4 separate regions of the Homo sapiens genome follow, and regions 1, 2 and 4 are each linked to region 3. The links come from fine-mapping of genetic effects on gene expression. A gene starts in region 3. Each other region holds a variant in brackets. All regions are shown on one strand. Distances are between the middles of the regions. Region 1 overlaps FMN2 (formin 2). Region 2 overlaps FMN2 (formin 2). Region 3 holds the start of FMN2 (formin 2). Region 4 overlaps FMN2 (formin 2).

Region 1 (5,256 bases), 94 kb before region 3:
GTTTTATATCCAAAAGAGCAATTGCTATCCACAATTACTATTCCATACACGTTTCCTTTCTTGCAGTTTTTTTTTTTTAATAAGAAATCCATTTTAGCATAGCTTGCATTTTAGCGTAAGAAAAAAAAACCCACAAAATTTGGCTTCTTTGGTAACTGATATGGTTTGGCTCTGTGTCCCCAGCCAAATCTCATCTTGTAGCTCCCATAATTCCCACATGTTGTGGGAGGGACCTGGTGGGAGATGACTGAATCATGGGGGCTGATCTTTCCCATGCTCTTCTCATGATAGTGAATGGGTCTCACGAGATCTAATGGTTTTAAAAATGGGAGTTTCTCTGCACAAGCTCTTTTTTGCCTTCTGCCATCCACATAAGATGTGATTTGCTTCTCCTTGCCTTCCACCATGAACTTGTGAGGCCTCCCCAGCCATGTGGAAGTGTAAGTCCAATAAGCCTCTTTCTTTTGTAAATTGCCCATTCTTGGGTACACCCTTATCAGCAGTGTGAAAACGGACTAATACAGTAACAGAAAAAAAATAGTTTCCTGGAAATTAAACAGATACTAATTAATGTTTCATCCACCAAAGTAATAAGAACCTTATTTGACTTTAGCAAAGCTCTGACAGATTTCTTTTTAAAGATCATAGCCATGGGACTGTTTGAGCAGGCACATCTCGCAGACTTCTCCCTGGAGTGGCCACCGTTTCCTGCTGGAGCCCGCTGTTATTGGGCCCAACTCTTTGGCTGGATATAGAATAAAACAGCTTCTGAAAAGCTTGTACTCAGTTCCATTTCAAGGCTGATTTTGTATGCAAAAAATAAATGGAAGAAAACATCCCCTTCTGCCTGACTGGATTCCACTGCAGGCTTAGGGAAAACAAGGGCATCCTAGCCAGCCGGGCAGATGGAAAGATAAATCGCAGAGTCTGTCACAATCTTAAGACAAATAAGACAGATGGGAATCTGACATCCTAATAAGATCATCTTACCTTCTGGACAGCATCTGAGCGTTTTTGGGGAGTTTCTGAAACAGCAGATTGAGATTCTAGATTGGAAAGGAAGCAGACAGTCAGTATCTTAAAGGACAATTTTCCTATTTCTTCAATCAGAAAATAAAACTTTCACTAAAATATATCATTAACCATAAGTACCAAAAAATATCCAGTCTCTCTTCCAATTATATAACTGGGTTATTAGGATATGACTACTTTTCAATATATATAATACATACAATGAGAATGCTCATGTCATTTTTAAAAATTGGGATATTCCTATGCCCTTCTCTATATATCAACTATCCTTATTTGTCTCGATTGCTAGTTTCTAAATTGTGCCAGAAAGTCCTTCTAAGACTTTCACAGATTATATTATTCACTTAGCTGAAGTCTGTATCACGATAGAAGCCACTTCACCAAGGTTGAAGGATGGGAGCTCAAAAGCCTCATCTAACTGTTGTCAAATTGCCCCTTGATTTCAACAAGAGATAACGAACACTGTCACCAAGAGACACTGAGTAAGAAGGGATTCTGAAGCAGTTTTTCTCTTTTAGTCCTCATGTCATCTGAGATTCTATGAGACTGCAAATTCATCATTCTAAAAAGACCTAAGGCATAACCAAGTCAGGGATTTCTTTTCGTAAGCGAGAGGGCACTTTCTTCTAAGTGAAGCTTGTGTGCAAATTTAAAAATAAAAGGGCCTTTAGGATAAAAATAAAAATGAAAGGGCCTTCAAGGAATTCCTCATGCTCCATGAATCAGAGCCTGAAAAACCACTAATCTCATCCATCCTCTGCACCTTTCAGATGAGAAATTCAAAGCCCATAATGCAAGTGGTTGTTGGCAAGGTGAAGACGAGAGTTTATATCTCCTGACTGTCGCGTTGCACCCCTGACTGGCATGCAGACCAGACCCTGGACACAAGGTACAGCAGTCACTGTTTTTGGTTTTGTTTTTTTCTTTTCTTTTTTTTTTTTTTTTTTTTTTGAGATGGAGTTTCGCTCTTTCACCCAGGCTGGAGTGCAACGGCGCGATCTTGGCTCACTGCAACCTCCGCCTCCTGGGTTCAAGCGATTCTCCTGCCTCAGCCTCCCGAATAGCTGGGATTATAGGCACCCGCCACCACACCCAGCTAATTTTTTTTTTTTTTTTTTGGTACAGACGGGGTTTCACCATGTTGGCCAGGCTGGTCTCGAACTCCTGACCTCGTGATCCGCCCGCCTTGGCCTCCCAAAGTGCTGGGATGACAGGCATGAGCCACCGTGCTCGGCCAGCAGTCACTCTTTATGGTCATTTTGACATTTCCAATTTAGCCACATGGTAGCTGATATATGTGACAATGCTACAGAAAAATAAAAGGCATTTAGTATTTAAACAGC[T/A]TAACATACTGTTAAGCTACAATGAAAGTTTTCATTTCACTCAGATGAGAATCTGTCTCCACAGGGACCCACAAGGCCTGGTTTCAACTACTGTTACTCCCTAGCCTCTCTACCCACCTCCATCTGTCCCAACTTGCTCACCAGGCCAGCCACCCTGGCCAGCTTACTTGTCTTGTCACACACCAGTCATGCTTCTTCCATAGGGCCGCCAAAGCCACAGTGGCTACTGCCTCTGCCCAGAGCACTGCACTCACTCTTCTTCCCAAAATCTGCAAGCCCCACTCTGTGGCTGCTTCCTTCGGGGCTTTGCTCAAGCAGCGACCCCACCCACTCCTTGGCACTCAGCACACACTCACCCTTACTTTCTTCGTAACCTGGATCATCACACCATATACTCCATAATGCATTTGGTTGCCTACTTATTTATACCTCTTATTCCACTAGAACATAAACTCTGTGAAAGCAAGAATTTTTGTCAGTTTTTCCTCTTGTTGTGTCCCCCACATCCAAATAGTGCCTGGTACTTAGTAGGTGCTTAAAATATTTGTTGAGTAATTGTAGGAGTGAATGAAAGAATAAATGAAAGATCAAAACAATGATAAGAACATGAAAGTGGGTTCCACCAGGAAAAGTGGGGTATCCTGGGCAGAGAAAGAGAGAGTAAGGATTTTACAAGAGACAATATAGATATTGCCTTGCCTTTAGCTATTTTCTGAATCTCAGCTAGGAGTATATATTTTAAAACAAAACTCACTGAGAATAGCATGATGCAGTCACTTACCAGTAAGTGTCACAGTGGCAATAAACAACTGGCCTTAAAATACAACCATTTTCCCAGATAAATATAGCATATCATTGAGCTAATCAAAAATGGATTCTTTTCTCTTATATTGACAAATCTCTACTCTGAACTTAACACCAGAGTTAGCCAAATTTTAATAAAGATCTTTAACAGCAAAGCTAGTTAACAGTTAATATTAAAGCAAATCCAAACTCCGGAACGCTCTCATTTTCTATTGTTTTTCGTCACTTCCAAATCCTCCCAAACACAATAGACTCAAGACAAGTCTTGGCTTTGTACCAGTGGGGAAAAGTCTCTCTTCCTCTTCTATTTAGATCGTGCCACAAGAGCCTAAAGGCTCTCCTGGTGGTACACAAAGAGTTCTTTACATTAGAAATGCATAAAATGCTTTCTAGCTTTGTTCTATAGTCCTTGACCCGGTAACTGGACCCAAAAAGTAAACTTCTGGGCTCTGATGGTAAAGAACAAGTGCAGTTTATCAGAAAAACGTACTTAGAAAACCACATTAGAAAGATGCATCAGCAAAATATTCTGCACACCTACACCCAAACTTTCAGCTCCTCTCTGTCTAATTCAATGGCTACCTGAACTGAATTCATTCTCCCAATCCCATCCCTTTCATTATAGTTTTTATTTGTTTGAATCTGTGTGTTAAAACACAGAAGAGAAATTTGCAGGTTGAAATGCTGTCTTCAAAATCATAAGCTGGAAAATAGGAGTTCTAGAGGGTCAAGATTTTAACATGAAAGAGATGTACAGAATAACTTCACTGAAAAATAAAGGGAAAATAAATGAGAACCACTGGGAGAGAAGAGAAAAATACATGATAAGGAAAAAGAAAACAATACAGAATAAAAGAAAGAGAAGGAAAAAGGTATAGGAGGGAGAAAGAGAAGGGGAAAGGTGTAGGAGGGAGAAAGAGAAGGGGAAGGTATAGGAGGGAGAAAGAGAAGGGGGAAGGTATAGGAGGGAGAAAGAGAAGGGGGAAGGTATAGGAGGGAGAAAGAGAAGGGGAAGGTATAGGAGGGAGAAAGAGAAGGGGGAAGGTATAGGAGGGAGAAAGAGAAGGGGAAGGTATAGGAGGGAGAAAGAGAAGGGGAAGGTATAGGAGGGAGAAAGAGAAGGGGAAGGTATAGGAGGGAGAAAGTAAAGGGAACATGAAAAATGGCGAAAGTGTCCTTTAGGGAGCGGAGAGAAATTGATGTACCAGTAATGGCTGAAGAGTGGAGTCACTAGATAGGTGAATCTGAGATATCAGCCTAGTTCCAACTTTCATAGAGCTCCCTAAATGAAAGTGATCACTCCCGGAACTCCCGACTCCCACGTTCCCAACACTCTCCTCCTCCCAGGATCCAGGGCACTTTCAGGAATTGCCTTAAACCCAGCTCTAGGACAGACTGATCATCTCCATCGAATATTCATCACTAGAATGGTTATTATTTTCAAAGACTAACCTGGTGAGAGAGCTCTCAAGGGTACATTTAAAATGGCCACCTCCTTCACCCATCCTTAAAATTAAGAAACCAGAATGTTCTTAAAAAAAAAAAAAAAAAAAAAACAGGCCGGGCGCAATGGCTCACATCTGTAATCCCAGCACTTCGGGAGGCCGAGGCGGGCAGATCACAAGGTCAGGCCAATACGGTGAAACCCCGTCTCTACTAAAAATACAAAAATGAGCCGGCCTGGTGGTGGGCACCTGCAGTCCCAGCTACTCGGGAGGCTGACGCAGGAGAATCGCTTGAACCCGGGAGGCGGAGCTTGCAGTGAGCCGAGATCGCGCCACTGCACTCCAGCCTGGGCGACAGAGCAAGTCTCAAAAAAAAAAAAAAAAAAAAAAAAGGTTAAATATTCCATTTTAAAAAGTTACCTCAAAATTCCGAGCATAATCTAAAATTCTGGACTCCCTATGGACTCCAAATGTTTCAGGACTGACCTCTTTACCATCACAAAATAAGCCTTTCACTCACGAAACAAAACATACTTGGATGAGCTGTGTATTTACAGAGAGAAGACAGTAAGACAATGAGCGGGATATGCCTCTCAGCTAAGAATGGAAAATAAACCTCCCTTTAAAATATA
Region 2 (5,256 bases), 330 kb before region 3:
CCTTCCTTCCCTCTCCTCCATGGAGGTTGGACCTGCATCAGGTCTAACAGCTGTCCCAGCTTCCTCTGGCTCCCTTCCTGTTTTTCCAAATAAATCCAATCTTGGCACTTGCTTTTTGTAGAACCTGAACTAACAGCAGGAGCACAAGTAGTCTGCGAGAACCGGGACTGAGATGGAGTTCTGGGACAGGTTCTCTTACCGGCCCCCTGTCCTGTGTGGGAATGTGGGGCATGGGCAGTCTCTGGCACACGGTGGCTATGTGATTGCTGAAGACATCACTAGAGCTAATCTGATAAAATATCCTGGTGTCCACACCAGCTGTGACGGCATCCACACCAGCACATTTTATCAGGTTAGCTCAGGTGATATCTTTAGTAAAAATGTCCTGGTGTGAACACCATCACACCTTGCAACAAATGGCCCGCCCCCTCAGAAGCTACCAGCTCTTCTCTTGGCTGCAGGACAATAGGACAACAATTAAGGAGACATCCCTGGAAGACCCAGCTAGGGAAGTGCTAGGCCTGAAAAGGGGTAAGAGATCATATATGGAAGGTGATGCAAGAATTAGCTACCATGTAGTGGAGCGATTCAGGAAGAGGCTCTTCTCTTATAGGTCTCTTCTGAGTGATAGCCAATTTAAAGAGGAGTAGGTGTGCTGGGGTTGCCCTGGCAGATGGAAGAGGAAGGAATGTGGAAGCTGAGAGAAGTAGGCACACCAGCATGCATTGTGTGAGTCCAGAAAAACTGAGCAAAGGATTATCCATGGAAGTTCCCAGAGGCCCCACCCAGAGGCCATAAAGAATGCATCAGGAAGAGGGGTATCAGCATCACTGAACAGTGCAGTTGGAGCTCTTCTCTGTAGGAAGAGGTTGCAGAGCTGGGCTCATTAAAATCCACTGGGATGATAGGATCCTAAATAATAGGGTCCAAGTGGTAAAGCTCAATGACCAGAAGCCCGGGTACCACAATTACCATAATAACCAAAAAGCCAAGGGGCAGCCAAGGAGGCCTGACTCTCAGCGGATTGTGGAGATGGTTAGTGGAGCATAGCATCCTTAGGGGCAAATGACAAGTGTGCTGCTCAACCTCTATGACCACAGAAAAGGGCAAGAGTGGGAAAACAGGAGGCTACAGGTGGCTGCTCTATAGAAAATCATGATTCCTTGATCAGTTCCCAGAACTGAGCCAATTTCAGATCCAGGACCCCCTGACCAAAGGAATTGCATCCCTGTGAGGAAGGACCCTGAAACATGGTAGCAAGGATACACTGTAATGTTTCCCCTAGTCCTTCTACAAAGAAACCTGCAGCCATCACTCAGTAGACTGTATAGTGCAAAAGGGAAATACTCAGATGTCTCGAGGGCCACAGGACACAGGGTCTGAGGAGACACTGATTTCCAGAGACCCACAGCTTCCACATGGCCACTTCCATTACTGCGGGAGCTTACACGGTCAGAAGTAATGGAATCCTGGCAAAAGTACAGCTTGTAGTGGTCAATCACCCACTCTGGGTACACAACTGGGATTGATGCCCTCAGGTGTTTGAGGAATAACCCTCACACTTTTTTTTTTGCCCATAAGGACACAGAAAGGTTGAAAGTAAAATTGTGGAGGTGCTATGACAAATGCGAACCAAAAAGAGCTGATATGTACCAATATTAACATAAGGCAAAGTACAAATTTAGGCAAAAAGCATTACCAGAAAAGAGATAGCACTGAAAACAAGATTAGGTTAACCAGGAAGATGAAAAACTCTAGATATGTAGGCATAAAACGAAAGCATTTGAAAATACACAGGGTAAAAATGTCAGAAGTGTAAGGAGTAACTGACATATCTGCCTGTAAGTCTTTTTATTTATATTTATATTTTTTATTTTTTGAGATGGAGTTTTGCTCTTGTTGCCCAGGCTGGAGTGCAGTGGCACGATCTCGGCTCACTGCAACCTCCGCCTCGCGGGATCAAGCAGTTCTCCTGCCTCAGCCTCCCAAGTAGCTGGGATTACAGGCGCCCACCACCATGTCCAGCTAATTTTTTGTATTTTTAGTAGAGACGGGGTTTCATGATGTTGGCCAGGCTGGTCTCGAACTCCTGACCTCAGGTGATCCACC[T/C]GCCTCGGCCTCCCAAAGTGCTGGAATTACAGGCGTGAGCCACCATGCACAGCTATAAGTCTTTACTATACACTCTTGGTAACTGACAGAGAGAAGCTGACAAAATCAGGAAAGATACTGAATATTTAAGAGTCAGTTTAAAATAATAAAATAGAACACTACATCCAACACTGGAACACTGTGTATACTTATACACGTTGGCCATCTTTTGGACCATACAGCAAATCTCAAAAAATGCAAAGAATTATTCTTATGCAGACAGTCTTCTTTTATGTAACCTTTATGTAATTAAGAAAGAAATGGAACTTCGAAAATCCCTTAAGTTTGGAAACTTAAAAACACACTACTAAGTTAATAGCAATAAATAAAAATACATCAACAATAGGCTGGGCGTGGTGGCTCACGCCTGTAATCCCTGCACTTTGGGAGGCTGAGGTGAGGGGATCACGAGGTCAGGAGTTCGAGACCAGCCTGGCCAATATGGTGAAATCCCGTCTCTACTAAAAATACAAAAATTAGCCGGGCGTGGTGGTGGGCGCCTGTAGTCCCAGCTACTTGGGAGGCTGAGGCAGAATCACTTGAACCCGGGAGGTGGAGGTTGCAGTGAGCTGAGATTGTGCCACTGCATTCCAGCCTGGGCGACAGAGTGAGACTCCATCTCAAAAAAAAAAAAAAAATCATAATAAATATAAAAGAATTTAAAACAACTATTAAACAAAGTCTATCAGATTGAATATCAAAATAAAAATTCAGATAAAATAAATACTGCTTACAAATGACATGTCTTAATCACTATAGCCCAGAAAAGTAAAAATAAATAGATGGACAATATATGCCAGGAAAATGTGAAAAGAAAGCGTGATGAAGCATTAATCAATAGAGGATTATAAGGTGAAGTGTATTAATGACAATAAAAAAGGACATTGTATAATGATTAAAAAAGAACATTCCATCAGGATGATAAGAACCATATAGAGTATATTGTCTGAAAACGTCATGGAATTGAAAGATGAAACAAACATTCACAATTATAGCAGAAGATTCTACAAATTAGTAATGATGTAGATGTGAAATTTACGATAAATAAATTTTATTTTAAAATATGCTGTATTTCACTTATTTAGCAGGTCATGGATTTTAAAAATAATATTTTATGTACCACTAAGAAAGACAAATAGTCCAATATGAAGAGTCTTAATAGAGGAGTTGCTCCCATATGCAAACCATAAACTGAGATACCAAAGGACTCACGTAAAAGAAAATGAGAAAGAAATTCCCATGCTGAAAGGGACAGTAAGGAAACTTGTTTCAACTCTGGCACTGGGCAAACAGATGACACCAAAAAAAGTTCCCTTGCAAATATGACTCATAAGCCAGACAGAAATCATGCAGGTTTTCCATCTGAATTCACAGTACCAGGCCCTATAAAAACAAAACAAAACAAAACCCTCTCAAGCTAAAGCAGGGAATTTAATTAAAGTAGCTTCACATTGATAGTGTCCTCAGTTGAATGGCACACACAAATCCAAATCCTCTCTGGAAGAAGCTGACTTTAAATCGAGCCCACATCGATTATAAGATGCCATCCACTGTAAGACGTACCCCAGTCTCAGAGATGTTAAAGGGTGAGAAAATATGCGGATGAGAATATATATCATAGAATCACACACAGGGCAAACTGATTCTTCTCAAGGACATACAAATATTTACTAAGACAGGTTCCATACTAGATCCCAAACTAAGTGTAATACAATTTACTGTAAATCAATAGGAAAATAATTACCAGCAAAGCAAACACACAAAACCCATGCATTTGAAACAGACACAACGAATATACACATAAGTAACTCATCAGCTAAAGAGAAAATAACAAAGTTATAACTGAACAACAATAAAATCTATTCTACATTTAAAAACTAGTGGGATATTGTTAAAGTGAACTTAATGGCAAAGCTAGAGCTCTGAGTATATGATTTTAAAAAAAGAAAAATTAAAAATAAATGAACTATTCATACAACGGACAAAGCCAGGAGAGACAGGATGCAGAAATAAGAGAATATTAAAGAGCAGAAATTTGTGAAATAGAAAGCCAATTAAAAAAACAACTTAAAAAAAAAAAGAAGAGAGAGATAATCAACAAATCAAAATTTCTGGTTCTTTCAAAGACCAATAAAATAGAGAAACATCCTAAAAGACTGGCTACAAAATCAGAAAATGAGGCAAGATTAAATAACATAAATATCAACAAGGGACATAAGTACAGATGGAATGAGGAGGAGAAGATTGGCTACAAAGAATGGAAAGGGAGGCTGGGCGCATGGTGGCTCACGCCTGTAATCCCAGCACTTTGGGAGGCTGAGGTGGGAGGATCACTTGAAGCCAGGAGTTTGAGACTAGCCGGGCCAACATGGCGAAACCCCGTCTCTACTAAAAATATAAAAATTAGCCAGTGTCTAATTTTTGGTGGTGGCACGTCTGTAGTCCCAGTTACTTGGGAGGCTGAGGCACGAGAATCGCTTGAACCCAGGAGGTGGAGGTTGCAGTGAGCTAAGATTGCACCACTGCACTGCAGTCTGGGTGACAGAGCAAGACTCCGTCTCAAAAAAAAAAAAAAAAGAGTGGAAAGGGAATGTACAGGCAAGGAATTGCTTTTTGTTTCTTTCTTAAGTCGTTATTTTATGATAATAAAGTAAATGTATTAATGGCTAGAAGGGAGAAGTTGAAATCAGGAGAGAGAAGTATCCAGATGAGATACTGATGGGAGGAGTTACTTCCCCCAGGCTGGTGGTAGAAAAGGAGACTGATGTGTGCAGGAGTAGTTTCACATACAGAAAGAGGAAGGGGCTCTGGTCTGGTGGATTTACTCTGTGAATTTAGGGCTGGGCAGGAAAATTGAGACAGAAAAGCAAAGAGGGAGAATAGAAGCTGAAGGAGGCTGGAGAAGCTGTGAAATGAAAATAACTGGGGGAAAGGTATCTTCCAAAACGAATATATCTAACATTGTTGTATTCTCATCGAAGCTGGCAGTGTTTCCAGGACAGGGATGTATCTTAATAAACTTTGCAGCTCTTATAGCAGCTATCACATCCTTACTCATATGAATCACTCGGTAAATACTTACTGCATTGCACTGCAAACTTCAGGCCT
Region 3 (5,256 bases):
CTTCTATCAAAAGTGATCTTTCTTTTTTATTTGTTTTGCATTTTGTTTTTGTTTTTTTACAATTTATCTAGTGGGTATAAAACTACAAACATTCTTTTTAACAATCTACACAATAAAGAGAAGGTGGAAAAGAAGAAAAATAAGAGTATGTGAAATGAATGGAAGAAGCTACTTTTAAGGGTAAGACCCTATAAGGGCAAAATAAAAGGTGGCCCACAGATGAAAATTAAAATGTGGTCAATAAAAGTAGCTACCCCAATATTACCAGCATTTAGTCAACTAAGAAGTCGCTGTCTGTGCCGAGAAATTTCATCTAAGCAATGTTTTACAGATAATGTATTTATTAAAATAATAGAACATAAGATTTTAAAATTTTCAGATTGCATTTGAAATGTTTAATCCTTCAAATATTTATCATAAACCTATCAGTAGTCATGTAACTTTTCATATTTTTCGATTCATTAAATTCTAACACTCTATTTCATTTAATAATTAAGAATAGAGGTTAGGTAAACATGTTGGGCTCTTAAGGTAAGGCCTTGGGCCCTGTAAGCCTGTAAGCTAGGATAAACTCATTGGACTGCTTGACACTGACCAGAGCAAACATACTCTGGCTGTGCTTTATGCCGCCCTGGGTATGAGTCTATAACATATGCTAGGGAGGGGAGGTACCAGTTGGACTAGACGTGCTTTTGACCTTTCCACCTTCACTGTCTCCAAACTACAGGCTGTTCTGGGCTGGACCATGAAACTGAATGAAAATTATCCCTACTATTCTATTTATTTATTAATTTTCTAATAGCATGTATCGGATTTTCTTGCAGCAGCAAACAGCAGTGAGTGACCGCTTAACTTCACTAAGCAGCGGAACCCAGACTGCTGCAAGATAGAAACTACATATCACATACATACCAAACGTGGACAAATACACACAGCTATGAGAGCGGTCAGAGACTGCCTTTGGATCGTACCGGAATAAATGATTTGTGCCTCCAAAACCGACTCTTGCGAAAGAACCATGAACAATTTTTTTTCTTTTTAATGCTGTGGTGATGAAAAATGAAAGAGAAGAATGATGGTTTAGCTAACGAGACGAAAAAGGAGTTTATCTCCCTGGCGTGACCCGAAACTTTGTGAATAGCAGGTATTTTGGTGAAATGGGCAGAGCAACTTAGGACAGACACAACTAAGTTGTTCCCTTTAAGATCTTGTAAGAACACAGAAAACCAACAAGTATGTCCAAGTCATTTCACCGTGGGGGGTGAGCTCGCTGGGCGGAAAAGGATTCCCTACGGAGAAGAGATGTGCCACTACCAGGTCACCGCCTTCCAGAGCCCAGGGAGGGCGGGTGGCAGGGGAAGGCCCTGACTGACAGGCGACTTGAGACCCGGAGGCCAGCAGCAGGGCGCGCTCACCTGTGAACACGTTCTGGAAGCCATCCGCAGCCGCGGGGGCCCCAGACGCCTTGGCGGCCAGTGCTGGGGACACCCCACCGCCGCTGTCACTCGCCACCCCGCGCTCCAGCAGGTGCGCGGAGCCTCCCACCCGGGGCGTGCGGGCGCCTAGCTCCTCCGTCCAGTCAGCCGAGCGGCTCAGGCCGGCCGCAAGGCCGCCGTCGGCCCGGTGCTTCTTGGCCGGGGCGGCTACGGAGGCCAGGGCAGTTCTGGACCCTCGGCTCAGGGAGGGTTCCGGCCGCCTCTTGATCCTGGGGCTCTGATTAGGGGACTGAGACGGGGAGTGATTGGGCGAGCTGAGCTGCCGGGTGGTGGTCTTGATGTAGCAGGGGGTGATGAGCGGGTAGGGCTTGAAACAGCGCTGGCTAGGCGCGGGGCTGCCGGGCAGGGAAGCGGCCGCGGGGGCGTCAGGTCCTTGCGCCTCCTCCTCCGGCTCTTCCCCCAGCCTCTGCGGGGCGTCCTCTCCCACCTCCGGGGCCCACTCCTCCCCCGGAGAGCCCCGGGGCGCATCCTCAAAAGCATCCTCCTCACCCTCCTCATCCGTGTCCCCAGCCCCTCGCACGGGGGCTCCGGCCGCTTCCTCCCCCGGCCCGGCCTCGGGAAATGGGAAAGCCGTGGAGGAGGGCGAGTCTTTGGCCGCGGGTTGCGCTGCCGGGAGACTGGGCGCCTCGGAGACCGGGAGGCCGCCGGGGGACGGCGGTTGCTGGGGCTCCCGGGGCTCGGCGGCCAGGCTCTCGGGCAGGTCGGAGAGCGCGGACAGCGCCTGCTCGGTGTCCGGACTGCCCGGGGCCTCCCCAGCCCCGCCGCTCGGCCCCAGCAGGAACCGGTCCAGGCCCAGGAAGGCCCCGGGCTGAGGGGAGACGGCAGTGGGGGGCGCTGCAGGCTCCTCGGCGCCCTGGAGCTGCTGCTGCTGCTGCTGTTGCTGGAGCTGGAGCTGGAGCTGCTGCTGCTGCTGCTGCTGCAGGCGGATCGCCTGCTGGATGTCTGAAAGCAAATCCTCTTGCTCCGTAGCCGAATGGAAGCTATAGATGTCCGTGTCCGAGCCCGAGCTGGTCCTTTGTCCATCCTGCGCCCCTGCTGCAGTTTCCACATCCTCGGCGATCGGCCGGCCCCCGACCCTAGCCTCGGCAGGCCCAGGACCCCCTGGACCGGTCACCTCAAAAGGGTCCGCACACTCGGTATCCGACAGGCCGGCCTCGTCCGCCGAGAGGCTGAGGTCTGGAGTCTTGGTGAGCAGGGAGTGAGCGCTGTCCAGCTCCCCGGTCTGCAGGGCCTGGGAATCCAGTACATCTTCGCGGGAGCCGCCGGCGCCTTTCCCCTTGGACAGATTCTTCCTGATCCGCAGGTTGGAAAACACCGAGGCTCTGGAGTCGGACTTGCTCTTCTTCTTGCCCGACTCCCCGCCGCCGCCGCCGCCCCCTCCCCCCTTGCCGTGCTTGCCTAGCGCCTTCTTGCCCCCGCTCCCCTTCTTTGTGGCTTCCACATCCCTGGGCCCCAGCGCATCCTCGGCGCCACCGCCGCCTTCGTGCAAAGCATCACCTGCGCTCCTCTTCAGCTTCCCATCCTGGTTCCCCATGGTGCAATCCCGCTGCTGCGCCGCCGCGCCGCGGGCACTCAGGCCATCCCGGCCCTCCTCGGCCCCAGGTCCGGGCCTAGGGAGTCTCCCGGGAGAGTCAGGCGGCGGCGGGGGGAGCCGCTGGGAGGGGAGGCCGACGCGCGCCCGGCTGGCCCCGCTCGCATCTGCCGCCGCTTTGCATAATGCGCGGCGGCTCCCGTGGCTGCCGTCGCTGCGGCTGCGGCTGCGGCTAGGGGCCGGCGGGGCGCGAACATGCTCAGTGCAGAGCGCGGCGCCCACCAATGGCTGCGCAGAACGCAGCTCGGGCCTGGCTCCCCGCCCGCCGCCGCCGCCCCCTCTGCCCCCGCGCGGCTCCTCGCTGAACCTGGGCGCGAAAAACGTTTCCTCTATCTCGGGGACTTTAATCTCCACCGTGCGAATCGAATGCATTGTCCCCGACCGAAGAGATCGTCAGCTGGAAGATGCACTCTGATCTTCAAAGCTGCTGGACCTGCCAAGAGAAAAGTTAAATAAAAAAGAAGAAATTTTTACACGGAGAAAAACTGAAGCCCAATTCCAGTTTAGAGGTGCCATCGGGTCACAGCCACATACACAACCCCCTGTCTGCCTCTGCATGGCTGTTCAATAAATATTTGTTGAATGAATGGATTGTTCTGTTTCTTGAATAATTGATCATCTAATTGAACACTGTTAATGTGCTTGAGCATATGGTTTAGGAGAGGTTACTACACATGGTGCTGCTTTTATGTTTCACACACAGACCCTGCTTCTCCAGGAGAGGACATTAGCTGTCATTTATAAAATTGGTTTGTGATTTTTTTGTTGTTGTTGACAGAAGGAGAGGTAGGAGAAGTAGAAAATACTGAGATTAGTGTTGATTAAAATGCTAGTCTCCAAATTCTATGTGTTTACCATATAAATTAAACAGCATTTGTATTCAAAAAGGGTGCATATACGATAACTCCCAGGAGGTCAAACTCATCAATATTAAACATGTCACTATTGTGGCTGCCTATAAAAAGGAAAAAGACAGAAAGGAAACACCCTTGGCACAAACACACAAAATCAGATGTTATGCTATAAACTACCACTTTCCCAAGCAAACCCTTCCAGGCAGACTTCGTCCTGTAAAAGTTTCTTAACGTTCTGGCCACAATATGGGGATAAACATTTTTCCTCATTGAATATTTTGTCATTGTTTTCATTATTTATTAAATTTAGTTACCTATTTTTTAAGAATAGTTTTTTTAAAAAAATATGGATATCTAAAGCTTTAAGCAGTAAACTGAGATTAAAGTGGCATTAATAAGTTTTACAAGTATTTAAGTAAAAGTCATTGATAACCACTTTGAAAATATGGAATAGACATCCAACTTATTAATATTTTCAAAATAACCCAGAGGAGGGAGAAAAGCTATATATTATACTGTGCAACTTAAATGTAGCAAGCAAATGTGTAGTCTTCCTTTGCATATTATGAACCAGCCTTTAAAATTCTTTTTTAAAAAAGGTTGGTCTTGTAAGTCTTTGGTTACTAACCTTTTTCAAACTATGTTTTTAAAAATAAATGTAATTTAAGGGCAGTTAGCCAGTTATCCTTAGGTGGCCCTTTCGAGTAAATGCTTTAGAGAAATCAACTTTAATAACTTTGCCAGGGTTATATCCCAGTCTCCAAGCAATTCCGGAGTACATGAAAAGCCTTTGTTTCACCTCTTTCACAAGACTGCTCTCTCCTTTTTTCTAGAATCTAGGCTCCTCAGAGGGCACAATTTGCCTGCAGCTATTAGAATTTTCTGCTTCTTTGAGTGCTGAGGTACTTTGAATCTTGATTTTTGCTCTTTCTTTAGCAGAACGTCTTTGATTCTGAACTACTGATTTCCTTATTGTTTTCTTCTGTGCTATATTCTAGACGTTCAGAAGACAAAAGAAGGGAAAGAAGGAGGGAGGGAAAGAATTGATGATTTTTTTTCACAGTGACAGTTGTGCAGCAGGTCACAGCTGACAAATCTCTATTGCATGCAAAGGCTCATTTGAAATTCACAAGTGTGGGTATCAAATACACATAGGTGCTCTTAACTCAAGGATAATTGAAGCATGAGCTCAGGCTCAGAGAGGCTAAGAGATTTGTCCAAGATCACATAGCAGCAGAAAGAATACTGGAACCTGCAAATTTAGACCACAATTTTTTTATAACATAAAACACTGCATAGTTTACTCTTGGGGGAC
Region 4 (5,256 bases), 21 kb before region 3:
TCAGGGCTGCTCCGCCTATGGGGTAGCCACCCTTTTATTCTTTTACTTTCTTAATAAACTTGCTTTCCCTTTGCTCTGTGGTTCCCTCTTGAATTGCTTCCTGAGGGAAGCCAAGAACCCATGTTTTCTCCCAGGCAGAACCCCAGTTTTGGGGTTGGCTCTGTGACAAGACTGTATTGTAATAGCAGGAGGACTGGGGAAAAAGATGAGAATTCAAAGAACCACCAAACCAGCAGGTTTACCAGTTTTGTTCCTCCAGTGTCCCTCAACCTGAACTCAAGGTATCCCAAAACCCAGAAGTGGGCATCAGCACCGACAAGGAAAGCTTTAAGGGGCAATTTGGCAATGTGTGTCAGTGATCTTTAAAAATTCACCCCTTTGACCCAGAAATTCAACTTTATAAAAGCTATTCTAGGTAAATATTCAGAGGTATCCTCAGAGTGATGCATCATGGGAGTATTATGATGACTAAATGAGATAATGCATGTCAAGTATTTATCACAGTTCCTGGTACTATAACAAATAGATTATTAATAGTACCAAAATTCAAAGGAACTAAAATGTCCAACAATACAGACATAAATAAAAAAAGATAGCTTTATACACATGACTGCTAACTATACAGCCATTAAAAGCCATGCTATTACAGAAAGAATAATCACTTAATTGATTTAAACATATTAAATATATTTAAAGAAACCAGAAAAATAAAACATCAGCTATCACTGAAGAATGCTAGGGCACTGATAACAGAATAGGAAATAATGAGGCATTTATGCTGCCTTTCTAGAAAGAACTGTATTTCAGGGTAACAACCATACCTAGTGAATAAAGTCTTCAATACAGAAAAATTCCAGCCAAAATGTGCAAAAGGAATGATAGAATTGGCCGGGCGCGGTGGCTCACGCCTGTAATCCCAGCACTTTGGGAGGCCGAGGTGGGCAGATCACAAGGTCAAGAGATCGAGACCATCCTGGCCAACATGGTGAAACCCCATCTCTACTAAAAATACAAAAATTAGCTGGGCATGGTGGAGCATGCCTGTAGTTCCAGCTGCTCTGGAAGTTGAGGCAGGAGAATCACCTGAACTTGGGAAGCGGAGGTTGCAGTGAGCTGAAATCTCGCCATTGCACTCCAGTCTGGCGACAGAGTGTGAGACTCTGTCTCAAAAAAAAAAAAAAAAAAGAAATGATATAATTAGAAAATCACCATTTTGCAATCCCTAATGAAATAATGGGTTCACTTAAAGAACAGCAAGTGGATGGAAAATCCATTAGAGAAAAGGTCAATTGAAACTCTTGCAAAGAAAGGATCAAGCTGTCAGCCCCAAACCCAGGGATCATTCACAGCTTCAGGACAACTGAGAAAGCCAGACATGGTGGGCCCCTGCTGGGGGTGATCATAAAGTACACAGCATCCCCCATCGAGCTTTCCTGCTGTCCCCCAGCCTCTGGAACAAAAGAAAGGAGAACTCAGCATGAACCAATTCAACTGTCAGATTGCACCTAGCATCCATTCTAGAGTATCAGAGAGTTCTGAGGATGGACTAGTTACCAGGTAATATTGAACAACTTACTCTATTTGCTTTCAATATAAAGAATGACATTGTAGCATACTTTAAAAGTCCATTTTTGAGATACATATTTGATATTAAAATAACATGATGTCTGGAGCTTGTTTTAAATTATTTCACAAAAAAGTAGGTGGCATGGGGTAGAAGTGGAAAAAAAGGGTTGATAAAACTATTATGGCATTGAAAATATTGATGATTACTGAAGCTGAGTAATGGATTCATGGGAATTCATTGTAATTCTCTGAGTGTGTATATTCCACTTTCACAATAAAATATCTTAAATCACACTATTAAAAACATTTACTTACACAGAAATATGTGACACAAAAATCATGTGAAAATTCAAGATCACAAAACTAAACAAAGCATGTTCCTGATTTTGCAAAACCAAGAGATACGAACACAGTTTATTAAAGAGTCAAAATCGCTGTGGTGGGAAGGCAAACAGTTTTTGTTATTTCCAGGACACACACTCCAGCTGGACTATACTGAACTCCTTTTCTGTTCAAGGAATGTAATTTGACCAACCAGGTCAGGGGGAGTGGACAGAGACATGAACTTTTATTTCTCTTCCTGCATTTGATAATTGAGAATTTAATCAGGAGACACTCACCTACTAAATAGGATTAGGATGCCTTGAATCTAAACTAGGGAGAATGGACTGCCCTGAAGCCTTAAACACAACCTTATTTTTTTTTTTTTTTTTTTTTTGAGACGGAGTCTTGCTCTGTCCCCCAGGCTGGAGTGCAGTGTCGTGATCTCGGCTCACTGCGACCTCTGCCTCCCCGGTTCAAGCGATTCTCCTGCCTCCCGAGTAGCTGGGACCATAGGCGTGTGCCACTATGCCTGGCCAATTTTTGTATTTTTAGTAGAGATGGGGTTTCACCATGTTAGCCAGGATGGTCTCGATCTCCTGACCTCAGGCAATCCGCCCACCTCGGCCTCCCAAAGTGCTGGGATTACAGGTGCGCACCACCGTGCCCGGCCACAATCTTACTTCTTAACTGTGCAAACTGGCTGGCTGGGGCCAGGAACCAGAGGCTTCCCGGTTCCCTCTGACACGGGCTTTCACACCCCATGACCACAGTATCCCCCAGTCAAGGTATCCCCCAGTCCCCTCACTCTACTCCTTGGTCAAATCACTGTTCCTAGACAGACATGTCAACCACACCAATAAATGAAAATCATTGGCCCTAGAGTAATTTTAACTTTTTCAAGTGTCCAGCTATTCAAGCCTGCATTTTACTTCATATTTGCTTACGTTTATTTATTCAACCATATTTCCTGAGCTCCTACTCTTTGCAAAACAGCACTAAGTCAATTTGCCAAAAATCTATCTGCTGAATGAACAGCTCACAAAACACTGCCTGTGGGCAGCAGCCATTTCACAGCAGGAGCTGGTGCCAGCTAGAAGGTCAGTCCCTAGGGCCCGGACCACAGGGTCAGCCAGGGAGGCCTTCAGAAGCACACACTGTCCCAGGGTCACTT[A/T]TCAGGAAAACGCAAGTGCAATCCCCATAAAGGAAGAGTTAGGCTCTGACACTGCCTAGAGAACACACCCCCAGCAGGTGCAGCAACACTGCAAGTGGAGAAAATTCTCAAAAGCTGATAAAATCATCTCTATAGCACAGATTGCTATAAACTTTATAAGTATATAAATGCTAGTTTCTGAGAAATTTATAACTCTATAAAGATAAGGGCAGGAGACGGGCAAAGTTTCTTGGGCTCTTTCTGCTCCCTTTCCTCCCTCCACCCAAATAAAAGACTCAGTGGGAGGGGCCATCTTCCTGTCCTTCAAACCCAGCCTCTAATATCATTTTCTGAACTAGAAAATGCAGGCCTGTCCAGATGCAGTGGCTCACGCCTGTAATCCCAGCACTTTGGGAGGCCGAGGCAGGCAGATCATGAGGTCAAGAGATCGAGACCAACCTGGCCAACAGGGTGAAACCCGGTCTCTACTAAAAATACAAAAATTAGCTGGGTGTGGTGGTGCGTGCCTGTAGTCCCAGCTACTCGGGAGGCTGAGGCAGGAGGCGCACTTGAACCCAGGAGGTGGAGGTTGCAGTGAGCCGAGATCACACCACTGCACTCTAGCTGGTGACAGAGTGAGACTCCGTCTCAAAAAAAAAAAAAAAAGAAAATGCAGGCCTAAGGATGTTAGGTGTCTTGTCAAAGGTCACGTTATCTTTATCTAGGAAAGGCCCATGTCATTGATCACACATATTACATATTATATACCTAATTATGCAGAACTGAAGAAATCTAGAATAGTATAACCATGAAGAATTCTCTCATTCTTTTATAGGATGGAAAGTGTTCCTTATTTTCTGCCTATTCCTTTCCCCTGAAAACACGTGGACTCTGTACCTTGACTTCATGAAGTACACCCATGTGGGGAGGCATGGGATTGCAGCCATAGCTTAAGCAACAGAAGCTACTTCCTGGATCTCAATCCCGATGTCAGAGGCGTTTGAACCAGAGTGACTCCATCTTGAATAGAGGCTGGGTAAAATGAGACCGAGACCTACTGGGATGCATTCCCAGGAGGTTAAGAAATTCTTAGTCACAGGATGAGTAGGAGGTCAGCACAAGATACAGGTCATAAAGACCTTGCTGATAAGGCTGATAAGACAGATTGCAGTAAAGAAGCCGGCTAAAACCCACTAAAACCAAGACGGTGACCAGAGTGACCTCTGGTCATCCTCATGTTACACTCCCACCAGTGCCATGACAGTTTACAGATGCCATGGCAACATCAGGGAGTTCCCCTATATGGTCAAAGAAGGGGAGGCATGGATAATTCACCCCTTGTTTAGCATATCATCAAGAAATAACCATAAAAATGGGCAACCAGCAGCCCTCGGGGCTGCTCTGTCTATGGAGTAGCCTTTCTTTATTCCTTTACTTTCTTAATAAAGTTGCTTTCACTTTACTCTAAGGACTTGCCCTGAATTCTTTCTCGTACAAGATCCAAGAACCCTCTCTTAGGGTCTGGATTGGGACCCCTTTCCGATAACACTGATGCCTCCATTATGCTAGGTATGGCCTTAGACAGGTTACATAACCCCTGGTAATCCTGTTTCCTCATCTAGAAATTGGAAATAATCATCCTCATTACCTCCGAGGATTACTGTGAAAATTAAATGAAACAATTTTTGTAACAGGCTTAACAGTACCCAATAAATGTTACCTGTTATTATTATGATCAAGATATACTTCAAATACTCTCTACTTGTAAATGTGATTAAAAATGTTGGTTCAACTTAAAAGAAGGAAATCATAAGTTGGATCTAAAAGCATTTGAAATAGTACGGTAATAGGCAAGGTAATCACAGATTCAAATATCTTCATCCACCAAGTTTTGGGTTTTTTTCCTTAAATTTAGTAGATTTTAACAACAAGGTAATATTTAAGACACTGCTTGCTAGAATTCCTAGCCTCAATTTTTTTTAAAAAAAAGGGCTTGCATATTTGTTTTACTATATTTATTAAATTCACATCAAAAATAATATTCATTAAATGAGAGTCGGGGACTTATTAATCATTAATGTTCTCCAATTATTGCTGTACTAATCCCCTCACGCTCTTCCCACATATTCTTCCACACTGTAGCTAATCAAAAGTGAAGCTTGTAGAATCAGCTTTGCAGTCATACACTAGCTATAAATACTCCTCTTACCTTGAGA

Evidence for each region. PIP is the estimated chance that this variant, and not a neighbour inherited with it, causes the effect.
Region 1: its variant is fine-mapped to the expression of FMN2 in lung (TOPMed, PIP 0.96).
Region 2: its variant is fine-mapped to the expression of FMN2 in lung (TOPMed, PIP above 0.99). The same link has a PIP of 0.9 or more in thyroid.
Region 4: its variant is fine-mapped to the expression of FMN2 in testis (GTEx, PIP above 0.99).

The regions. Positions count from the first base shown.
Region 1 is chr1:240,183,997-240,189,252 of GRCh38, reverse strand. FMN2 (formin 2) reads right to left here. Exons shown (of 18, transcript NM_020066.5): 4 at 991-1,046. Among named protein-coding and RNA genes, the nearest start is that of FMN2, 95 kb to the right of the region's middle. The variant T/A (reference allele first, on the strand shown) is at 2,376.
Region 2 is chr1:240,415,732-240,420,987 of GRCh38, reverse strand. The region is part of intron 15 of FMN2 (formin 2); the gene reads right to left. Among named protein-coding and RNA genes, the nearest start is that of GREM2, 190 kb to the left of the region's middle. The variant T/C (reference allele first, on the strand shown) is at 2,110.
Region 3 is chr1:240,089,884-240,095,139 of GRCh38, reverse strand. It overlaps FMN2 (formin 2), which reads right to left and starts at 3,257. Exons shown (of 18, transcript NM_020066.5): 1 at 1,416-3,257. The coding sequence starts at 3,030.
Region 4 is chr1:240,110,586-240,115,841 of GRCh38, reverse strand. The region is part of intron 1 of FMN2 (formin 2); the gene reads right to left. Among named protein-coding and RNA genes, the nearest start is that of FMN2, 21 kb to the right of the region's middle. The variant A/T (reference allele first, on the strand shown) is at 3,062.